4 linked regions of the Homo sapiens genome follow. The protein of the gene in region 3 purifies or fractionates together with the protein of the main gene of each other region. This does not show direct contact. Each region holds a gene or a part of one and is shown on either strand. Other genes may lie near its edges. The genes, in order: GPI, UTRN, PGM5 and TALDO1.

Region 1 (4,208 bases), on a different chromosome or scaffold from region 3:
TGGAGCAGTATTTGCAGGTCAGTGACAGTGACGCCACATAACCTCCTGAGATTCCAGCTCTTTAAAACCAGAGGAGGGGGGACGGTAAACACACCCCCCAACCCTAAGCCTGCAGGTCAAAGGCCGCAGCTTCTCCCCTGAGGGGCTGCAGTCAACCTGAGGCTCTCTTCGGCCCAGGCTGGAAGGTATCTCAGAATTCAGATGGAATTCTTCATATTTTATGTACATTCATGTGAGTAAATAGAACATAAATAAAAACAAACAAAACCCCTCTATTATCAGGGCATGGCTCTGGGATCAGAAAGGAGCAAGCATGGCTGGGCATGGCGGCTCAAGACTGTAATCCCAGCACTTTGGGAGGCCAAGGGGGGGTGCATCACCTGAGGTCAGGAGTTCAAGACCAGCATGGCCAACATGGCAAAAGCCCATCTCTACTAAAAAATAATAATAATAAATAAATAAATAATAAAATTAGCCAGGCGTGGTGGTGTGTGCCTAGTCCCAGCTACTTGGGAGGCTGAGGCAGGAGAATCGCTTGAAACCTGGGAGACGGAGATTGCAGTGAGCCGAGATCACGCCACTACACTCCAGCCTGGGTGACAGAGCCAGACTCTGTCTCAAAAACAACAACAAGAAAAGGAGCAGGCATAAAGGACAGGTTTGTAAGAAAGTGGCGAGCAGTCCCAGGCTGAGCAGAGATGCCGCAAGGCGAGCGGGTGTGGTCAGGACACAAAGGTTCAAACTGATGTGTTCAGGATTTCATCAGTCAACCTTATTTGCTGCTAGGCATGGAAACAGTCTAGGGCAGCTGTACTGACCTGATCCACAAACCATGGTTCACTCGGAACCCACCAAAAGGGACCAATGGCCAGGGGGATGGCAAGACAGCTGTCCCTCCCCACCCCAACACACACAGGGCCAGGGGCCGGGCAGTTTTCGGCACTCATACCTTGGAGGCAATGATGAACAGGGAGGACTCGGGGTTCAGCTGGGCCAGGGTTTTGGCAATGTGAGTTCCATCAATGTTGGAGACATACCAGACGCGGGGACCTCCTGAAGAGTATGGCTTAAGGGCTTCAGTCACCATGAGGGGTCCCTGCGGGGAGACATAGCATCAGAGAATAAGAATTCAGGGCCCACGAAAAGTGGAGACAGCCAGGTCCCATCCCTGGAGAAAGTAAAGACCTGAGTGGGACCAACAGTGCCCAGACTCCCACCCTACCCCAAGGCAGTTTTCTCCTCACCAGGTCGGAGCCGCCAATGCCAATGTTGATGACGTCCGTGATGGTCTTGCCTGTGTACCCCTTCCAGTCACCGCTCCGGACACGCTGGCACAGGGGCGAAGATGCCATCAGCCCAAACCCCCAGGCATAATCCGCTGCTCAAAAACATCATTACTGCCGTGTCCTGGTACCTCAGTCCCAGCTTTCAGGCCCTCGCAGGTGCCTCTATTTTTTTGTTTTTAATTTACCATATATATATATATATATATATTTTTTTTTTTTTTTTTTTTTTTTTTTTTTTTTTTTGAGATGAAGCCTTGCTCTGTTGCCCAGGCTGGAGTGCAGTGGCATGATCTCGGCTCCCTGCAATCTCTGCCTCCCAGGTTCACGTCATTCTCCTGCCTCAGCCTCCTGAGTAGCTGGGACTACAGGCGCCCGCCACCACACCCAGCTAGTTTTTTGTATTTTTAGTAGAGACAGGGTTTCACCGTGTTAGCCAGGATGGTCTCGATCTCCTGACCCTGTGATCTGCCCGCCTCAGCCTCCCAAAGTGCTGGGATTACTGGCTTGAGCCACCGCACCCAGCTATTTATTTTTAATTTTTTTTTTGAGACAGAGTCTCCACTTTCTGGGTTCTAACAATTCTCATGCCTCAGTCTCCTGAGTAGCTGGGACTACAAGCCTGCGCCACCAGCATGCCTAGCTAATTTTTTTGTATTTTTAGTAGGGACGAGGTTTTGCCATGTTGGCCAGGCTGGTCTCGAATTACTGGCCTCAAGTGATCTGCCCAGCTCGGCCTCCCAAAGTGCTGGAATTACAGGTGTGAGCCACCGCGCCTCGCTATTTACTTATTTTTAAAACTGTGCCTTAGGGGCCAGGCAGGGTGGCTCAAGGCTGAGACAGGAGGATTGCTTGAGTCCAGGAAGTTGAGGCTGCAGCAAGCCAAGATCGCAACACTGCACCTCCAGCCTAGGTGACAGAGGAAGACCCTGACTCCAAAAACAGAACAAAATGCTCTGCTTTAGCCTTTTTTTTTTTTTTTTTGAGACAGGGTCTCACTCCGTCGCCCAGGCTGGAGTACAACGGCACGATCTCAGCTCACTGCAGCCTCCGCCTCCAGGCTCCAGGGTTCAAGCAATTCTCCTGCCTCAGCCTCCCAAGTAGCTGGGATTACAGGCACCTGCCACCCTGCCCAGCTAATTTTTAGTATTTCCAGTAGAGATGGGGTTTCGCCGTGTTGGCCACGCTGGTCTCAAACTCCTGACCTCAGGTGATCCACCTGCCTCGGCCTCCCAAAGCGCTTGGATTACAGGCATGAGCCACCACGCAAAGCCTATTTTATTTTTTGTAGAGACAGCGTCTTGCTACGTTGCCCAGCCTGGTCTCTAACTCCTGGCCTCAAATAATCCTCCCATCTTGACCTCCCAAAGTGTTGGGATTACAGGCGTGAGCCACTACACAAGGCATAGGAGTCTCTGGAGACCACACTGGTCCCTGCCACACTCACCACCAACTAGACTCTTTCCTGGTTACAACAGTGAGACATCCCTACCTTACAGCGACACTGTCAGAATTTGCAAAACCAGGGATAACTCGGCAGAATCTGCTATGCCAGAGACCAAGAGATGTGAAATGTTGAAAACTGTGACTGGGCTATGCTGGGGAAAGGAGTATCAGACCCGCAGCCAGTCTCCAATCAGACACCAGTGATCCTTGCTTCCTGGAATTCATGCCTCTGCATAGCTTCCGCCTGTGCTGGGAGGGGTGACCTATGCACCCATCCAGAGACTGCAAAAAGGGGTGAAATGTGACTTCAGAAGTGAGTTCAGAGAACGTGCAGTTTCTGCTTTGCTCTCTTGGATGACTCGCTTTGGGGAAGCTGTCTATCATGTTGTGAAGACATTCAAACAGTTTCATAAAGAAGCCCACGCGGCAGCGAACTAAGGCCTTTTTCCAAAAGTCACAGCCAACTCGCTTCCTGTGTATGGGACACTTTAGAGGGGGGTCCTCCAAACCCATCAAAACTTCCGATAACTGGGGCGCTGGCCAACATGTTGACTACAGCCTTATGAGAGATCCCCAAACCAAGACCAACCAGCTAAGCCGCTCCCAAACTTCTGACCCACAGACACTGTGAGAGGTAATAAAAGTTTACTGCTAGGCCGGGCATGGTGGCTCACACCTGTAATCCTGGCACTTTGGGAGACCAAGGCAGGCAGATCACAAGGTCAGGAGTTCGAGACCAGCCTAGTCAACATGGTGAAACCCCGTCTCTGCTAAAAAAAAAAAATACAAAAATTATCCAGGCATGGTGGCGTGTGCCTGTAATCTCAGCTACTCGGGAGGCTGAGGCAGGAGAATTGCTTAAATCCAGGAGGCAGAGGTTGCAGTGAGTGGAGATCACGCCATTGCACTCTAGCCTGGGCGACAGAGCAAGACTCCGTCTTAAAAAAAAAAAAAAAAGTGTATTGCTGTTTTAACCCAAGTTTTGATGTCATTTGTTATACAATGATAGATAACTAATACAGATTTTGGTATCAGAAGTACAGTGTGGTCATAATAAAAACCTAAATATGCAGGCCGGACTCAGTGGCTCATGCCTATAATCCCAGCACTTACTGGGAAACTGAGGCAGGAGGATCACTTGAGGCCAAGAGTTTAAAACTAGCCTGGGCAACATAGCAAGACGTCATCTCTACAAAAAATAAAAAAGTAGCCAGGCATGGTGACATGTGCCTGTAGTCCCAGCAACTTAGAAGGTTGAGGTGGGGAATTGCTTGAGCCCAGGAGTTCGAGGCTGCAGTGAGCAGTGACTGCACCACTGCACTCCAGCCTGGGCGACAGTGTGAGACCCTACCTCAAAAAAAAAAAAAACAAAGAAAAAAAGAAAAAAGAAAGAAAAGAAAAGAAATAATTATCCCATACATACCAGTCATCCCATGCCCACCTCACCATTGTATGCTGGGTGTGTGAGGGGTAATTTGT
Region 2 (4,208 bases), on a different chromosome or scaffold from region 3:
TATACCTTTTACAAAATTATAGTCATTTGTCAGAATTCAGTTTCTTAAAAGAACTTCACCTCCAAGAAGTTCTTGCAAGAACAATGCAAATCAATCCAAGAAACATAGGTTTTCTAAATACATAAAAATCCATAGCTTTCTTGAGCTTCCTTTACCTACCAGATCTGGACTTAATGATATCACTGAATTCGTTCTGCCCATTGTCAGGACTGGCTTCATGTTCTCCATACTTGGCCATCTTGCCAGAGTTTCAAGATAATCCAAAAACTTTACCAAGTCCTCTTTCTAAGGCTTTCAACTTCCTACGATGGTTCAGCTTGACATCAATACCTAAAAGGAAAAGGGAAAGTACTGACTTGAAAAAATGTATTTATATATTTTATATAGTTATTCGTAGTAACTATTCATTCACCAAATATTTATTGAGTGCCTACCACGTGTAAAGCACCAAGCCAGGCAATGGTGTTATGACTATGAACAAGAGACATAGCCTCTGCCATTACGGCGCTTATGCACACTAAGCAATTAATTACATAATGAATTATTTCATTACAATACTGACAGACTACAAATCATACAAAGGAGAAGCACAGAGTATTAAGAGCACACAGCAGAGGAGTCTGACCTGCCCTGGGCAATTAGAGAAGGCTTTCTTGAAGAGACATTTGAGCCAAGCCTTTAAAGATGACAAGAATTTAATTAGCCAAAAAGGGAAACAGAAAGAGAAAAGGTAAGAGCTTCCTATGTGAAGTGGCAGAAAGAATCATGGAGCAGTCAAAGAATGGAGCACAAGCCAGTGTTTCTGGAAAGAAGACAGCCAAGAGACAAGTGTACCTGTTGAACCAGGTGAAGAAGCTGGGCAGGACCAGGGATAGGACCATGGAGAACAGGTCAAGGGTTTGTGTCTTTATCTGAAGAGCAATGGGGAGCCAGTAGATGGTTCGAAGGAGGGAACCAACATGGTCAAATTGGCCTTTTTAAAAGATCGTCAAGGGACGGGCACGGTGGCTCATGCCTGTAATCCCAGCACTTTGGGAGGCCGAGGCAGGTGGATCACGAGGTCAGGAGTTCGAGACCAGCCTGGCCAGCACAGTGAAACCCTGTCTCTACTAAAAATACAAAAAAAAAAAAAAAATTAGCCAGGCATGGTGGTGTGCACCTGTAATCCCAGCTACTCAGGAGGCTAATGCAGGAGAATTGCTTGAACCTGGGAGGTGGAAGTTGCAGTGAGCTGAGATCACGCCACTGCACTCCACCCTGGGCAACGAGAGTGAGACTCCATCTCAAAAAAAAAAAAAAAAAAAAAAAAAAAAAGACGATTGTGGCTTGTAGGTAGACCACAGTAATATGTGGGGAACCAGTGAAGACTATGGCAGAATATAGCAAAATGCAAATTAAGGAACCTAGCTCATGGGTATATGAATGCTGAATGAAAATTTCTTGCAACTCTTCTGTATGTCTGAGAATTTTTTCATAGTAATATGTTGGGGAAAAATTCCTAATCTTAACCAAGTGATCAAAATTCACATAACCAATCATGGGGCATCATGCAATTGAATGGAAAATCACCACATCATCTACACAATATCCTTGCCAAGATGTTGAACGTGAATCTTCTCATGAGCAGACAAATCTAGACTGTGGCTAGTTTTCAAAAGAAATGGCCTGGTTTCTTCAAAACTGTCAGCGTCTTGAAAACCAAAATTACCTGGGAGAGGGGGAGCTTTGTGAATTAAAGGAGACTAAATAGACATGACAATGAAATGTAATCTTTGATTGAATTCAGAATTTTAAAATAAAACATTTGAGGATCATTTGAAAAATCTGAATTTGGACTATGTATTAGACAATATTATTGTATCAATGTTAAATTTCTTTAACATTAATTATGGTATTGTTGCAGGAGAATGTCTTTGATTGTAAGAGACATGTGGTGAAATATTTAGCAATGAAGTGTGATGGTATCTTCAACTTAAGTTCAAACAGAATAGCATATATCTGTCTATACTGATATAGGTATATTTAGGTTGATATATGTATGTAGATGTATATATGCATACACACAGACAGACAGAAAAATGCAGTAAGTATTGTAAAATAAGTGGGAAAACTAGGCCGGGCAAGGTGGCTCACGCCTGTAATCCCAGCACTTTGGGAAGCCAAGGCAGGTGCATCACCTGAGTTCAGGAGTTCGAGACCAGCCTGGCCAACATGGTGAAACCCCATCTCTACTTAAAAAAAAATACAAAAATTAGCTGGGTGTGGTGGCAGGTGCCTGTAATCCCAGCTACTTGGGAGGCTGAGGCAGGAGAATCACTTGAATCCAGGAGGCGGTGGTTACAGTGAGCCGAAATTGTGCTATTACTCTCCAGCCTGGGTGACAAGGGCAAAATTCCATCTCAAAAAAAATAAAGTAAGTGGGAAAACTTGTTAAAGGGCATCTGGGTCTAGGCGAGGTGGCTCACACCTGTAATCCCAGTACTTTGGGAAGCTTAAGCGAGAGGATTACTTGAGCCCAGAAGTTTGAGATCAGCCTAGGCAACATGGTGAGACCTTGTCTCTACTCCATGTAAATAAAAATTTTAAATAATAAAATAAAATAAAATAAAAAGGACATCTGGGTGTTTATTGTGCTATTCTTTCTATTGTAATATTATATGCAGGAAACAAGTGTGGTCTAAACAAGAGTAGATAGAAAGAAATGGGTGAATATGTGGGATATTTAGATATCAAAGAAAGTCAATAGGATTTGGGAATTGATTGGATATGAGAGATTCATATCCAATGTGCAAAATGTGCAAAATGACTCCCCAATTTTGGCTTAGGCAATTAGGTGAAGTGTGAGTCATTGAGCTGGGCAACACTGAGGATAGCAGGCTGGGAGAAAGGAATCATCAATGTGATTTGGATTTGCAGAGCTTGAAATGCCTCTGAGTTATATAAGCGGAGATGACAAAAAGAGAGTTGGGCCCAGCATGGTGGCTCATGCCTGTAATCCCAGCTCTTTGGGAGGCTGAGGCAGGCAGATCACTTGAGGTCCAGAGTTCAAGACCAACCTGGCTAACACTTGAGGTCAAGAGTTTGAGACCAGCCTGGCCAACATGGCGAAACCCTGTCTCTACTAAAAATATAAAAATTAGCCAGGCATGGTGGCAAACACCTGTAATCCCAGCTACTCAGGAGGCTGAGGCAGGGGAATTGATTGAACTCAGGAGGTAAAGGTTGCAGTGGGCCAAGATCGCTGCCACTGCACTCCAGCCTTGACGACCGAGTGGGTGAGACTCCATCTCAAAAAAAAAAAAAAAAAAAAGAGAGAGAGAGAGAGTTGGATATAAAGGATTGGATCATCAATCTGACAGATTTTATGAGAGTCTAAAAAACTTTTTTCATTTTTTATAGGCTCTACTACTGCTAAAAATTTATGGATTATTATATGATTACATTCTTTCATTCAAGTACATAACTATAAAGGATTTGCTAAATTCTTAAGTGTATTTTATTATATTCAAGAATCAAAAACTTTGTTCAGAAGAATGTCTATAAAAGTTTATCATGGAAAATTAAGTTTGCCCAGGGAAAAATTCTCTTTCCTGGAAAGAACTACAGTGTATCACTTTGGAGCAGTAAGTCTAATGCTTTTCTTCACTATTGGTCTTAGCCAAGATCTCCACTTCTATGCTACCCAAAGCCTTTATTCACCCATAAAAGAGAAAAGTCAACTGTTTACACACTACTTTATTCCATTTGCCCATTATCAGTAACACTTCTTCACTATAATGTTTCACTTGCCACTCTCCTCAAGGTGATTTTTCAAATTTTTCTCTTCTTGATAATGAAAATCCCTTACAGGTTGCAAAGATACAGCAGAAAAGGTGATCAGAGTACAGAGGAAAATGGGGAGAAAGAAGAATAACAGAAGGCTATTTAAATAGTGATAGCCACTGAGGTTACTTGCCATTAATGGCCAGAGGAATTTGAGTACACTTAAGGCAAAGGATGACTCCTTCTAATTGCCAAATGCAGAATCTTTGGTTCTCAGGAGACAGAATCAAAGTTTCACCACGAACAATGCATCCCAGTGTGACCCTCCGTCTTCCACACCTATAAAATGGAGGGAACACCATCTTCACAGAAGGCTAGGTGAGAAACTGAGAATCAATGAATGAGATGTTGCTTTAGAAGCTTCAAGCCCTATACAAATGCAATTT
Region 3 (4,659 bases):
ATTCATTTTCATTGCATTTTCTTAAAATAATAGGATAGTATATGTTTATCTTTATTCACCCTCTAAAACCTCAGCTAAAGTGATTGAGTTTAACTTCACTCTCTTTTTCTGTCTGAGTTTAACTTCTTTGATAGGTGTTAATGAAGAATTACATAACCAAAAAGGGGGAGCAGGAAAGAGGGAAGAGAAGACAGGAAGAGGAGCAAAAACTAATAATTGAATTTCTGTACAAAATGGGCACTTTGCTCCTAAAGAATAGAGATCCCTCTATCTTGGCATCACATGGGATATGTCCTGGCAAAATGTGCCAGTGTAAAATGTTTCTGGGCACCAACAGGGTTATTAAGAGGAAAAGAATCCCTTCTGTTTTTACGAATCAAGATGATCAACACGGAACCGGAGGAAAGTGCCACTTTCTTGTGTTCTAGATTTTCATTTTTCTTCCAGCTTCCAGGAGTCTATGTGAGCTTGTCCATCTAGCCATCTTCATAGAGTAAGATAATTTAATACATGTAACCATAAATTGCTGCCAGATCAATATTTCCAAAGCACAGCTGTGATGTCACCTTTCAGCCCAAAACACTTCAATGCCTCCCCTTGCCTAATGAATTAAAACCTTACACCTCACTCTAGCATTTAGGTCCCTCCCAACAAGACTGGCTCACATCTCTCAGGATTCTTCTGTATCTACATGCCACTCAGGACACAATGGATTGCTTGTGATGTCTTGTACCTTGTGCATTTCCTTGTGTTCCTGTTGTGTGGATTGGAATGTGTGCACTCCCTTTATGCATGGGAATAGGTTAGGGCCCACAAGGAACTGAATTCCTCTCCCCCTCCCAAAATGCAAGCCTTCTTTTCCTGAATTACAGAATTTTTGTTTCTTCCATTATCCTAATATTACCCAAACTTCTTTTCTATCAGTATCTCTATATTAATAGGTGTCTTTATTTTTTATTTTATTTTTATTTTTTCTTTTTAGAGACAGGCAGGGTCTCACTTTGTCACCCAGGTTGGAATGCAGTTATGCAATCATAGTTCACTGTAACCTTGAACTTCTGGGCTCAAGCCATCCTCCCATCTCAGCCTACCGAGTAGCTAGGACTATAGGCACACACCACTGCACTCAGCTAATTCTTATTTTTTGTAGAGATGCGGTCTATGTTGTTCAGGCTGGTATTAAACTCCTGGCTCAAGTGATCCTCTGCCTCAGCCTTCCAAAATATTGGGATTACAGGCATGAGCCACCACGCGTGGCCAATATTTGTCTTTAAATTGACTCACTTTGTTTTTACCTCAATCTACTTATTTATTATAAAAGTACTCTACATGGAAAAAACAATACCACTTGATAAATATAAGCACATCATGAACATGAATTCAATAAAAACATTCAGTGACATTACATTCTAGCTGGGTAACTCCTGAGGCATGCACTATCTTGGTTAAATTGTTAAAGATTGGCAGCAAACAGAGTTTCTCCTTGATGAAATCAGAAGGATTGAAGAACGGAAAATAGACTGATTTTCTCACTGTTTTATTAGCAATACCATATCCATGCACCACTGAAAATCATTGTGAGTGTTGCATGCTCCACACCTCGGAAAACAATGCCTCAATCCCATGAAACAATAAGAAAGAAATGAGTCTTCCTCCTTCTCATGTCCTTCAACTTCCCAAGAACCTATTCCTTAGGCTTCTAAAGCATGCCCACCTCCTCCAGAAAACCCACTGAGGTGCCTCATAAGCCCAGTGTTACGTAATGGGAAGGCATGATCAGTCATTTCTGCAACGTTGGCCAATGAATTGGTCTGTCATTTCAGAAACATCAGGATTGTGGGTTCTTTAAATCCATGGCCCTAGGATGAAGAATGAGCTTTTATTCTCGTGTGTGTGTGTGTGTGTGTGTGTGTGTGTGTGTGTGTGTGTGTGTGGTGAGGATGAGGGTGTAGCAGCAGAAGACTGGAGTTTTTCTGAACTCCCTTAATTCACAATGCTGTCTTCATACAGTGCTCTCATGTTTGGTAGTTGGGTTGTACATTTTCCTATTATAGATAAATTTCTTTTGAAGCTGGTTAAGACTTTGGAGATCACCTTCTCCCCCTACTCTCCTGCCCTGCCCATTCCAACTACCATTGGTGGAGGAGGAAGCAAATGTCCTGCTCATGAAGACTGCCTGTAAACAGTGAATTGGAATCTGAGTCCAGATGCTTATGGTAGAAATCCATCAGAATGCCCCAAAATGTAACTGACTTGAGTTGTTCACAGACTTTCCTTTTCCTTTTGCAGGCAGTGCTGAGCCCTCTCATAGCCATCGCACTGAAAATATCCCAGATTCATGAGAGAACTGGCCGGAGGGGACCCACTGTCATCACCTGAATAGAGGAAAGATCACTCACCAGGGCCAAAGAGAGTGCTCAGCGGGAGATGCTTCACTGATGCCTTCTTGCTACCTGTTTGTGCCTCTTATGACTTTGGAAAAACAAAAGATATTTTGCTTTTGGGGGATAGAGGGTGGGTGGGAAAAGAAAAAAAATCCATTTGGTTTTGGTTTTGTCCTATTCCTCCAAATGCAGCAGGGCCTTTAGTTGTCTGTTAAAGCTGCACTATAATTTGGTATCTACATTTTATCACACAAAGGAACCTCCCCTTTTGACAACAACTGGGCTAGGCAGCTGTTAATCACAACATTTGTGCATCACTTGTGCCAAGTGAGAAAATGTTCTAAAATCACAAGAGAGAACAGTGCCAGAATGAAACTGACCCTAAGTCCCAGGTGCCCCTGGGCAGGCAGAAGGAGACACTCCCAGCATGGAGGAGGGTTTATCTTTTCATCCTAGGTCAGGTCTACAATGGGGGAAGGTTTTATTATAGAACTCCCAACAGCCCACCTCACTCCTGCCACCCACCCGATGGCCCTGCCTCCCCCATCCCATCCCCAACATCCCTGTACCACCTTCTCTCACATCTTCTAAAGCTTTGTACAAATCACAATGGTGCACTTCCAACAAAATATATCAATAGGTGTTTTCCTCTCTTATTTTGTAAATAGTATTATTTTAGCTATTAAGCTGGATACCTTCTTTCAAATTCAGCCATTCAGTTGTAAAGTTGGGAAGAAGTTTCTTGACAAGACTCTGCAATTAAATGCTTAAAATTTGGAGGGGATCCTTCCTTGATTACATCAAGTATGTTGGTACATGGGTTTATACAAGTTCCTCTTGAGAAGGCAAAAAGACCACCATGTGTGAGAGCTCTTTGACTTGGCCAATAGGGGCCTATCTTAATGCACTTGTTTGGACACATTTCTGATCTTATTTGTAAAGGCTGCAAAAGGAGAGGATGAAATGCTGTAAAAGTAGGAAATGAAGTGGAAGCTGGAAGAAAATGTAATTGGTGGTACAGCTATGGGCCAGATGGTGGAGGGGAGGGTGGGGACCCCTGCCGGCAAGCAGAGTGTCACAGCTGGCTTTCCTCACTTGGGAAAAGGGTACTGCCGGTCTAGCAGCCTCCTCTGTACTCAGCCAGGACACCCAGCGCGTGGGACCTGTTTGTGTCTGTTTTGCTTCCTTGGGAACGGCACAGTCACTCACCCTGCCATTTGCGGAAATGACCTGGTGCACTTTGACTGTTAAGCAATGCGTTATTGCTGTAGTCAAGGTTAGTGCAAGCAAGGAAACATTCCCAGTAAGGTATTTGTTTCCATTTTCTGTCTGTGCTTCTGTCAGAAACTTGCTAGGACATTTAGTGGCCAATAAAAAAGAAATTCCTAATTTCAACCTTATCCAAGGATTGTGGGTTTTTACTTATTTGTTTGTCTCACCAGTTGAGAAACTCCAGTACTGGTCACCTATCCTGATAAATCTGCCTTTCAGAAAACCTGCAAGGGCTGTTTTTCACTATTATGGCAAGAGACATGTATTAAATGGAACAGAAAAGGTAAGTTACTCAAAACTGCCTTTGGGAGTCAGCAGAAACTGAAATGGCATCTAGACCTCCACTGTAACTGTCTTCATTTCAAAATAATAGGAAGGTGGCTTTGAGCTGAGATTCTAAAACAAAACCATTTCAAGATTGATCACCAGTGGAATCAAATTCATGTCATAGCTTTGGTTCTCAGGTTCTTGTCTCAAGAGTGGACATCTATGCTAGCCATCCATGTGTTCATTAATCACGGATGTCTTGGTTGGGACGCTCAGATGTATTCTTAGGTGTATCAGCTCTAGGTAAGAAAATATTTATTTTCTCAAGTTGCTGAACTTTTAATGATCTCTAACTTGTAAGTTCATATGTAAATTAGTCCTTACATAAAAATTATATTTCTTTATTTTGATATGGAGTCATGCGTGGACAGTAGCCCAAATATATATTTAGCCATCAGTCCATCCATTCATCCATCTATGTGTTCATTCATTCATTCTGTGGACATTGGTTGAGCAACTCCTCTAGGCAGAGTTCTGTTTTAGATGGGGCAAAGAAATGGATAAAACATTATTCCTGATCTTATAAGTTTATAATTTGGGAGTAGGAGGCTATGACAAACATACACAAATAATCAGTTAGACAAAAATGTTATGAGAGACACAAATAATGTGCTGTGGGACTACACAGAGAGGGGCAATAGACTCAGAGACGGTGGCACGAGAGTGGTTTCCACAA
Region 4 (4,208 bases), on a different chromosome or scaffold from region 3:
CTCTTAGGCTGAAGGGATCCTCCCATCTTGGCCTACCAAAGCACTGGGGTTACAGGCGTGCACCACTGCCCCCAGCCCACCATTTTAAAATGTATTCAGCACATTCACAGTTCTGTACAACCATCACCATCCATCTCCAGAGCTCTTTTCATCATCCCAAACTGCATCCCTCTATCTTTTGGCACTTGCAAAATATTATATTTTCTATCTCTTCAAAGTTATTGGACAGACACCCAGTGAAGTCCATGATTCTGTTCCAAAATCTGAGCAGCCTTGTTAGCCCACTACACACAGGAAGATCTTCAGCTAGACGCTCAGAGGTTAGAATTCTTGGGCCAGACTGGGTGCAGTGGCTCACGCCTGTAATCACAGCACCCTGGCAGGCCAAGGTGGGCAGACTGCTCAAGCTCAGGAGTTCGAAACCAGCTAGGGCAACATGGTGAAACCCTGCCTCTAAAAACAAATACAAATATTAGCCAGGTGTGGTGGCGTGCACCTGTAGTCCCAGCTACTTGGGAGGCTGAGGTGGGAGGCTGGCTTGAGCCTAGGATGTAGAGGCTGCAGTGAGCTGAGATTGTGACACTGCACTCCAGCCTAGGTGACAGAGCCAAACTCTATCTCAAAAAAAAAAAAAAAAAAAAATTTGGGGCCATCTGGACATGGGTGCAGGGCTCATCTGTTGATCACCCAGCCAAGCAAAGGCACCAATGTCACCCAATAACAGGAGCACCAAGGCCTCACTGATGCCACAGGGGTGCAACACCACGAGATGAGGAAAAGGGAGCTAAGAAGAGAGAGGAGAGGGTCAGACTCAGTGTCCAGAGTGGCTGTCACAACATGGTCAGGGGAGCCACTCACCAGCCACCTGGACCTAAGCAAAGCCAGTACCAGAGAGGGACCTGCTCCTGTGTGGTGCCCACGTTGCCTGCTCGGCACCATCTTCAAGCTTTGAATTATTACCCTGAAGAGAATCTAAAATGACATCTAAAATATGCAAAGCCACAGGCATGAAGAGGGCTCTACAGTTGCTTGGTTGGGTAAGGGAGTGGGGAGCTACTGCAAACAGGTACCAGAGAACATTCTGGGAGTTATAAAAGCTATTAAAAAATTAAAAAGCCAGGCACGGTGGCTCACGTCTGTAATCCGAGCACTGTGGGAGGCCAAGGCAGGTGGATCACTTGAGGTAAGAAGTTCGAGACCGGCCTGGCCAACATGGTGAAACCCTGTCTCCACCAAAAATACAAAAATTATAGCCAGGTGTGATGGCGCATGCCTGTAATCCCAGCTGCTCGGCAGGCTGAGGCAGGAGAATCGCTTGAATCTGGGAGGCAGAGGTTGCGGTGAGCCGAGATTGTGCCAGTGCACTCCAGCCTGGACAACAAAAGCAAAACTCTGTCTCAAAAAAAAAAAAAAAAAAAATACAAAAATGAGCCAGGAGTGGTGGCACACACCTGTAAGCCCAGCTAATTGGGAAGCTGAGGCAGGAGAATTGCTTGCACCAGGGAGGCGGAAGTTGTAGTGAGCCAAGATTGCTCCACTATACTCCAGCCTGGGTGACACAGCGAGACTCCGTCTGAAAAGTAAAAAATAAAATGACAGCCAGAAGGTAAGTGTTACCAGAGCTGGGGAGACTGACTACAGGAGGGGAGGAGGGGCCTGTGGGGGTCTGCAAGTGCTCTGCATCTTGACTGGGGTGGTATTTACAGGGTACACACATTGGCAAAACTCTCTGAACTGCTCATTTACCACAGGTGCAGGTTACTTCATGCAGATTACACTTCAATAAACAAAAATAGGCAAAAAGATAGGGTTTTTTTCCCCCCTTGAGTTCATGGTGTTTGAGAACTAAAATTCAGTTAGGGAGGGAAGCAAGGCCAACTAGACTAGCACGAGGGCCTAGCTGGGACCCTCCCGAGTCCAGGCACTCACCCGCCCAGCTTCCGGCCATAGGCAATCGCCTCCTCCACCAGCTCCTGGTAAGCGGGCATCTGTGCTGCGGCCAGGATCAGGGACGGGTTGGTGGTAGCATCCTGGGGCTTGTACTCGTCGATGGCTAGGGAAATAGTTTTCAAAAGCCAAAGTAAGTGGAGTACTTGCTTCCAACTGGAAACATGTGAAGGAACCCTGTAATTCCCCAGGACGTTAGGGGAGTCCAGAGCATTTCCGAAAGCGGGGTCCAGCCACACTTCTCACACCTTCTTCTGGGTCACTGAAGGTTCATCAAGAGGCGGCTGTTTGCATAATGATGGAACAACAAACACTAAGTGCCCAGCGATCAAATATGCCCCTGCAAGAGGTGACCTGTAACAGCATGGGAGTGAGCGGTGCGACAGCTGGGAGAACGCTGGTCAAAGGAAAATGTGCATCCCACTGCCGTACCACCACAAGGAGGCGCGCGGTCTAGTCATGAGCCACATGTGAACGCTGATCTTATGGACTGGGTCATTATCACCATACCCAGCTGCAACAGAGTCAAGAAGCCAAGGGGAGCTGGGCGCGGCGGCCCACGCCTGTAATCCCAGCACTTTGGGAGGCTGAAGCGGGTGGATCACGAGGTCAGGAGATCAAGACCATCCTGGCTAACACGGTGAAACCCCGTCTCTACTAAAAATACAAAAAACTAGCTGGGTGTGGTGGTCGGCACCTGTAGTCCCAGCTACTCGGGAGGCTGAGGCAGGAGAATGGCTTGAATCCAGTAGGCGGAGCTTGCAGTGAGCCGAGATCGCGCCACTGCACTCCAGCATGGGTGACAGAGTGAGACTCCATCTCAAAAAAAAAAAAAAAAAAAAAAAAAAAGGCCAAGGGGAAAAGCACTCAGGACACACAGCATTGCTCCAAAAATTATTACCTGCAAGCCTAGTTGCTGAAGCGGCCTCTAACCTGAAACCAGTTTATCTAATAGTTGCTGAACCGCACTGCTGCAACTTTAAGACTAATTTTATCCACTGCTATCACTCACCAATCATTCTTTTTAGGTTTCATAGAAAGACTAAATTAGCCAGGTGTGGTAGTGCATGCCTGTAGCGTCAGCTACTCAAGAGGCTGAGGCAGGAGGATCGCTTGAGCCCAGGAGGTTGAGACTGCAGTGAGCCATGATCATGCCACTACACTCCCACCTGGGCCAGAGAGCAAGACCCTATCTCTTAAAAAAATAAATTCAGGCCGGGTGCAGTGGCTCATGCCTGTAATCCCAGCATTTTGGGAGGCTGAGGCTGGTGGATCGCCTGAGGTCAGGAGTTTGAAACCAGCCTGGCCAAAATGGTGAAACCCAGTCTCTACTAAAAATACAAAAATGAGCTGGGTGTGGTGACACATGCCCGTAATCCCAGCTACTCAGGAGGCTGAGGCAAGAGAATCGCTTGAACCCAGGAGGTGGAGGTTGCAATGAGCTGAGATTGCACCACTGCACTCCAGCCTGGGTGACAGAGTGAGACTCTGTTTCATAAATAAATAAGCAAACAAATAAATAAATATCGCATTCAGTAGCTTCTGCAGGTAACTTGACAAAACCTGACCTAAGAATCCTTTTAGTCGGAGTGGACAACTTTGACAATGTCCCAAGTTTTTGTTCAAATTGTACTGGTGGTCCCTTTTATAAAGCTGACATTCTCTGCTTTAATCAACCCAGTCATAAAATGCTACTCAGTGGCTGGGCACAGTGGCTCACACCTGTAATCCCAGCACTTTGGGAGGCCAACGGGGGTGGATCACTTGAGGTCAGGAGTTCGAGACCAGCCTGGCTAACACGGCGAAACCCTGTCCCTACTAAAAATATAAAAATTAGCCAGGCGTGGTGGTGCATGCCTATAATCCCAGCTACTCGGGAGGCTGTGGCAGGAAAATCACTTGGACCCGGGAGGTGGAGGTTGCAGTGAGCCGAGATTGTGCCACTGCACTACAGCCTGGGCAATGGAGCAAGACTCTGTTGCAAAAAAAAATAAAAAAGTTTTTTTCTTCAGAGTAACCAACTAAACAGTTCAAAACGTCCAAACTTGTAGCCACTGAGTAGCTTTTTTTTTTTTTCTGACACAGAGTCTCACTCTGTCATCCAGGCTGGAGTGCAGTAAAATGATCTCGCCTCACTGCAACCTCCTCCTCCAGGGTTCAAGTGATTCTCCTACCTCAGCGTCCTCAGTAGCTGGGACTACAGGCTCACACCATGATGCCTGGCTAATTTTTGTACTTGTATTTATTTTTTATTTTTTTCC

Evidence for each region.
Region 1: the proteins of PGM5 (region 3) and GPI fractionate together in Homo sapiens (co-fractionation; one large-scale study listed by BioGRID). This does not show direct contact.
Region 2: the proteins of PGM5 (region 3) and UTRN purify together in Homo sapiens (affinity purification with western blotting, with the first as the bait; one study listed by BioGRID). This does not show direct contact.
Region 4: the proteins of PGM5 (region 3) and TALDO1 fractionate together in Homo sapiens (co-fractionation; one large-scale study listed by BioGRID). This does not show direct contact.

The regions. Positions count from the first base shown.
Region 1 is NC_000019.10:34,374,623-34,378,830, reverse strand, and holds part of GPI (glucose-6-phosphate isomerase), read right to left. Parts: intron 1,329-4,208; coding exon 1,245-1,328; intron 1,097-1,244; coding exon 950-1,096; intron 1-949. UniProt on the Homo sapiens protein: In the cytoplasm, catalyzes the conversion of glucose-6-phosphate to fructose-6-phosphate, the second step in glycolysis, and the reverse reaction during gluconeogenesis.
Region 2 is NC_000006.12:144,287,859-144,292,066, reverse strand, and holds part of UTRN (utrophin), read right to left. Parts: exon of another isoform or gene 4,113-4,208; intron 331-4,112; 5' UTR 239-330; coding exon 160-238; intron 1-159.
Region 3 is NC_000009.12:68,527,278-68,531,936, forward strand, and holds the end of PGM5 (phosphoglucomutase-like protein 5), read left to right. Parts: intron 1-2,289; coding exon 2,290-2,379; 3' UTR 2,380-3,784; downstream 3,785-4,659. UniProt on the Homo sapiens protein: Component of adherens-type cell-cell and cell-matrix junctions. Has no phosphoglucomutase activity in vitro.
Region 4 is NC_000011.10:753,724-757,931, reverse strand, and holds part of TALDO1 (transaldolase), read right to left. Parts: intron 2,054-4,208; coding exon 1,930-2,053; intron 1-1,929. UniProt on the Homo sapiens protein: Catalyzes the rate-limiting step of the non-oxidative phase in the pentose phosphate pathway. Catalyzes the reversible conversion of sedheptulose-7-phosphate and D-glyceraldehyde 3-phosphate into erythrose-4-phosphate and beta-D-fructose 6-phosphate.